Linked DNA regions of Homo sapiens: region 1 is linked to region 2. The links come from fine-mapping of genetic effects on gene expression. Tissue or cell type: lung. Region 2 holds a variant in brackets; the other region holds the start of a gene. Each region is shown on its reference strand, or each on the opposite one. Region 1 holds the start of HERC5 (HECT and RLD domain containing E3 ubiquitin protein ligase 5). Region 2 has its middle 4.5 kb from the start of IFNA8.

What was found. PIP is the estimated chance that this variant, and not a neighbour inherited with it, causes the effect.
Region 1: HERC5 starts here. The variant in region 2 is the best candidate, but not a certain one, in a credible set for the expression of HERC5 in lung (TOPMed, PIP 0.68).

What each region holds. Positions count from the first base shown.
Region 1 is chr4:88,455,464-88,458,370 of GRCh38, forward strand. It overlaps HERC5 (HECT and RLD domain containing E3 ubiquitin protein ligase 5), which reads left to right and starts at 1,656. Exons shown (of 23, transcript NM_016323.4): 1 at 1,656-2,071. The coding sequence starts at 1,807. The region is part of intron 1 of LOC102723458 (a long non-coding RNA gene); the gene reads right to left. RefSeq lists an enhancer at 1,286-1,715.
Region 2 is chr9:21,412,204-21,415,110 of GRCh38, forward strand. No RefSeq gene overlaps it. Among named protein-coding and RNA genes, the nearest start is that of IFNA8, 4.5 kb to the left of the region's middle. The variant C/T (reference allele first, on the strand shown) is at 1,501.

The DNA of each region.
Region 1 (2,907 bases), not on the chromosome of region 2:
GGCTGCACCCCACTCTCCTGGTGCAGTGGGCCCCCAAGTCCCTTGTGGGCATGCCCAGACAAGACCCTGGGCAGGCTTCCTCAGCTGCACAAAAGCTTGTGAGGCAGGTCAGAGATTCTCCAGGGACCCTCCCTTATCTGCCTCCAGCATCTATCGATACTATAAAGAATAATTCATTTTAAATATAATGAAGACCAACAATTATAAAACTTCCAGAAGGTAACAAATGAGGAAATCTTATAATCTTGAATTTAGCAAAAATGTCTTAAGTAGGACAAAAAAGGTATGAACTATGTAAAAGAAAAAAATGGATAAATTACATCAAAATTGAAAACTTCAGTGCTTCAAAAGACACTTAAAATGAAGAGGCAAGCCACAGACAGGTAGAAAACATTTCAAAACGTATAGCTAATAAAGAACATGGTATGAAACATATAAAGAACTCAATAATATATAAAGAACTCTTAGATAAAAAGTCAAGCTAGCTAATAAATAAATGGTCAAAAGATTTGAATACACACTTCACAAAGAAGAGATCCTCCTGCCTTGGGCTAAAAAAGGGCTGGGGTTACAGGCAGGAGCCCAGGCCCAGCCTTGTCAGTTGATTTTCGGTGACCCTTCAGAGGGCAAAGGGGAAGTTTTCTCCTGTTCCCTACAACCGACAGGCCCATCAATTGGTGAATGGATAAATAAACTGTGGCTTACCCATATGATAGACTACCATTCAACAATAACACAAATGAATTACTAATTAAACACAATAGTATGAATCTCAAAGCATTGTGCTAAGTTAAAAAAGCCAGACATCACTTAGATATGGTTCCGTTTGTATGCATTCTAAAAAAGGCCTAAAGCACATCACTGTTGCCAGGCACCCGGGAATACGGGAATACGTAGCGGAGCGGGCACGAGGGGGGTGGGGGTGGGGGTAGGGGTGGGGGGGAGGGTAGCTGCCTGCATAGCTCTGCCCAGTTTTATGCCGGTTTCAGCCCGGCGCACAACGCATTTTTTTTTTTGATACATAGTCTCGCTCTGTCGCCCAGGCTGGAGTGCAGTGGCGCAATCTCGGCTCACTGCAAACTCCGCCTCCCGGGTTCCCGCCATTCTCCCACCTCAGCCTCCCGAGTAGCTGGGACTACAGGCGCCCGCCACCACGCCCAGCTAATTTTGTTTTTGTATTTTTAGTAGAGACGGGGTTTCACCGTGTTAGCCAGAATGGTCTCGATCTCCTGACGTCGTGATCCGCCCGCCTCGGCCCCCCAAAGTGCTGGGATTACAGGCGTGAATCACCGCGCCCGGCCGCGGCGCACAACGCTTAACAAACTTTGGCTTCCGTTATCCCTCCCTCTGGAAATGCGTGTGTCAGGGTGCCTCCTAGTGGAACTGCAGCGTTTCCTCGAAAGCCATTCCGTCCAGGAGTTAAGGTGGCCGCTGCCCGCCCGGGGACACTTTCTCAGTCCAGCCCATCGGCCTTTACCCCAGCCAACGACCTGTTGCCTTTGGCCGCCTGCCAAGTCACTCTCATTACAGTTTCCTTTTCCTTTTCGATTCCGCCCCCTAAAAACAACAACAAACATTATGTTTCGTTTTCCACTGGAGCTGCAGGCCCCGCCCCCAAACAGCACGTGGGGGGCGTGGCGTCCCGGCAGGGGCTCAGTAGCTGAGGCTGCGGTTCCCCGACGCCACGCAGCTGCGCGCAGCTGGTTCCCGCTCTGCAGCGCAACGCCTGAGGCAGTGGGCGCGCTCAGTCCCGGGACCAGGCGTTCTCTCCTCTCGCCTCTGGGCCTGGGACCCCGCAAAGCGGCGATGGAGCGGAGGTCGCGGAGGAAGTCGCGGCGCAACGGGCGCTCGACCGCGGGCAAGGCCGCCGCGACCCAGCCCGCGAAGTCTCCGGGCGCACAGCTCTGGCTCTTTCCCAGCGCCGCGGGCCTCCACCGCGCGCTGCTCCGGAGGGTGGAGGTGACGCGCCAACTCTGCTGCTCGCCGGGGCGCCTCGCGGTCTTGGAACGCGGCGGGGCGGGCGTCCAGGTTCACCAGCTGCTCGCCGGGAGCGGCGGCGCCCGGACGCCGAGTGAGTGGGGCTGGTGTGTGAGGGCTGTGAGGGCTGTGAGGGGTGAGGGCTGAGGGCTGTGAGGGGCGGGCAGCCGGGGGTCCGCGCCTGAGGGAGGAGAGCCCAGAAGGCCGCAGACGCGCGCCTGGCTCGGATAGTTTCGCCGACGGCGCACCTGAGCTGTCTTTTATCCCGGTCAGTGTCAGGCGCGGGGTGAGCGGGATACTGGCGACCAGCGGATCCTCCGCTCAGCAAAGTGGCCGGTGCGGGGCATGCGGGCACCGTCTTCATCCTTTTAGCCAGTCTGGCTTTCTCATAGGTTTCTGTTCAAGTTTGTACCCCCGTCCCCCGCCCGCCGCATCTCCCACTGTCTCGTTTTGAGAAAGTAGTCACTGCTCCAACTTTGGGAGTCGTTCTCAGTGATGGGATTTTACCTTGGCCTTCAGTTGCACTTCTCCCACATTCTCATCGAAGTGGGGGAAATAGTTGCCCGCGTTCTTTAAAATTTTGCCCATCTGTGGAGTGAAGAAATTGGTATCTTGCTGCGAGTTTATTTTGCGTTTAACTACTGGACGTTTGCGTTCCTTTTTCGGTAAATTGCCTGTTTATCTTTGCCTGGCTTTTAGAAATTTGAGTTGTTAAATCTTTTTCTTATTTGTATGGAAGAGGTATTTGAATATTGAATAAGAATAGCCTTTTGCACGTCGTACATGTAATATTTTTCTCACTTTGCCTTTTGTGCATGTTGTTTTTAGTGCATTTTTTGGGGGGTAGTCTGTCAATTTTTTTGTCTGTTAAGGCTTATGGGTTTTATGTTAGGCTGGAAAGCTATCCACACTCCCAGTGTTTTAAAAAAT
Region 2 (2,907 bases):
TGGCTCTCAGCATTCCAGGATGCAGTCTCATATCACCAGGGTTTCCTTGATCATTCACTCCCTTTATCCTTCTGCCCATTCACACAGAGCTGCTTTCTGTTCTGTTGTGGTTCTGGCTTCATGGTTTCCCTAAATAGCAGAAAAGTAAAAGTAGAAAGCAGAAGTTAAATAAAAAAGACAGTCCCCTGGGACCAAGTGTAACAAGAGCAGCAACCAAGACTGGAGGGCAGGTTTCTGATCTATGGAGAAATCCTACCAGTTCTGGAGATTTCTCTTTGTGCTGCAAAAAAGCTACTTATTGGCGAGAAGAGACGCTAATGTTGTCCAAGTTTGTTCCTTATCCCTGGTCTATTACAAAGAGAATGAGTTTCCAGGTACAGTCAAGGCATGGACTCCTTGGGATTCGCAGTGATAGGGACACAGAGATGTAATATCTGCCCACCCTACTGTGCAGAACAGTCTACTCCCCAGGATCACCCCATCCTCATACATTGGGACTCCAGGGCACAGGTAGGGCTGCCGTTTTGTATTGGAACTTAATACTATTCACAGAAACCTCATGTTTAATGGTGCATTAAACCAGCAGTACAATCTTAATTTCACAGATTTAATCCTAATATCAGAGTTCAAACATTAACAAATTAAAACATTTTCTCACTGTCATTTTGAATAATGATCTTTCCAGTTCTTCCACTCAACAGTAAAACCCCTGCCCAGTTAGAAAAAGGAAGAATTCCCATAGAAGCTAAGGAATGTGAAAGAATAGCATTACTGTTCCCTGAGAGCTGGCGAGGTCTATTTATTCAAATGTATCAATTTTGGTAGAGATTGAGAGGCATTCCTATAATTGACACCATATATTCTGGAGTTATTTCACTAGGAAGTGTGTGTGAATTGCTGAGGTAGCAGGGAGGGAGAGCCTACAACTGCACAGGGGCCTCTTGAGTCTTTTCCTCCAGCTACACACTCAACATCTGGATTTGCTGCTTTCAGACTGGGAGTTGACCAGGGCCTTAGACAAATTACAAAAAATTGTATTGTTTGCAGTCTTCTTCTGTCCTCTAGAGGGGAGGATGGAGAAATTTAGGAGTGACCAACGGGGAGGTAATTGAATCATGGGGGTCGGTCTTTCCCATGGTGTTCTCGTGATAGTGAATAAGTCTCATGAGATCTGATGGGTTTATCAAGGGTTTCTCCTTTTGCTAATTCCTCATTTTTCTCTTGCCAGCACCATGCAAGAAGTGCCTTTCACCTCCTGCCGTGATTCTGAGGCCTCCCCAGCCATGTGGAACTAACTGTAAGTCCAATTAAACCTTTTGTTCCTAGTTTCAGGTATGTCTTTATTAGCAGCATGAAAACAAAGTAATACATCTTCCCTCTCCTTTCTTTAAGCAGAAGGAAGGGTCTCATTTGGAGTTCTGAACTGTGCTTCCTGGGGTTACGGGAGAAGTGTTGCAAGTACTCCTTTAACCTTTGTTGCTGGTGTCTCAGTAGGTCACA[C/T]GCCCCCTTCCTGTTCGCTGCCTCTGAACCCAGCTCAGCACTAGGAGTTGCTTAGAAATTACAGTCCTTGTGGCCTAGGCTGCCTTTCAAGTTTATTTAGCGTCCCAGAGCCCTTTAGTCCATGGTGGGGAGGTTTGCTGGAACTCAATCTCCCATCACTGGGATAGGACATTTCCCTCTGGCTAGGGCTGGTTCAAATGCTCCCTCTATGGGCAGGCACAGCTGAGTACAGCCCTGTGCTGCTTTCTGCTGTCAGAGGGCAGCCATGAATTTAAGGCAAAGTCTCACACGTACTGTACTCTCCCTCTCCCAAGTGCACAGATTCTCCATGCCATGTGGCTGCTGCTAGGGATGGAGGCAGGGTGGGGATGGCAATTCAAGACTGTCTTTCCTACCCTCTCCAGTGCCTCTTTTAGTGATATAGAGTTAAAATCAGACACTGTGAGTGTTCACAAGATTTTTGGTTCCTATGAAGATGCTCCCTTTGCATAGACAGTTGTCAAACTTGATGTTCCTACCGAGAGGGTGGGACCATCGATGGTGCCCTCCATTCAGCCACCTTGCTCTACCCTCCATAATGTCTTTCAAATGTTATAACCTCTTTCATTTTTTTCAATGCTTTAAAAAAATTATATTCAGGTTGTTGTAAAAGTTTTATGACTTGGCTCCAAACTGTCACCTTGCCCTGGAAATCTCTATAGCCATATCTTGCATCATATCCTGGAGTTATTAACCAGTTATGTGTTCTACAGTAGTCAGGAATCAAGCAGTGGGTCTGGAGGACCAGGACAGAGAGTGAAGTTGGAGGGCAGTGAGTGCTGAGATGCCCCACCCATTCAGGTCCCTCTGTAGTGCCAAACATTACTTCCCCCTACACTCCCAACCCAGCTGAGGTGCATCTAGTTTACCTGAGAAGGGCCACAGGGAGCATGGAGAAGCACTCCAGTTCCCATGGAGACTTGGCAAGGGCTAACCATGCAGCACTAGCTGGAGACAGCTAAGTTTTTAGAGCCTTGGAAGCAAGAGTGTGAATATGACCTTGTTTTGACCCCTCCTGCCAGGTGATTCATGAGCTGTGGGGGGTCCAGACCCACTGATGTCCAGTCAGGCCACAAAATGCAGTAAATGGAAGGAGGCCTTCCCCCATACTTATGACCCAAAGAACTGGTAAAGAATGCAGGAGCTCATCTGTTCTTATGTTTAGAAGTTTCCATGTTCTGATTCCCCTAAGAGGAGACTGCACCAGACATAGGACTCTCATTTGTTTAAAAACAAACAAACAAAACAAAACAAAAAAAAACAGAATACATCACAACACAAAGAAGTTGAAAAAAAGAGGAGCAGTCTGATATCTTGGAAGGAGAATAGAGATGTTTAAAACATTGACTGCAACAGTGGCAGGTCCTC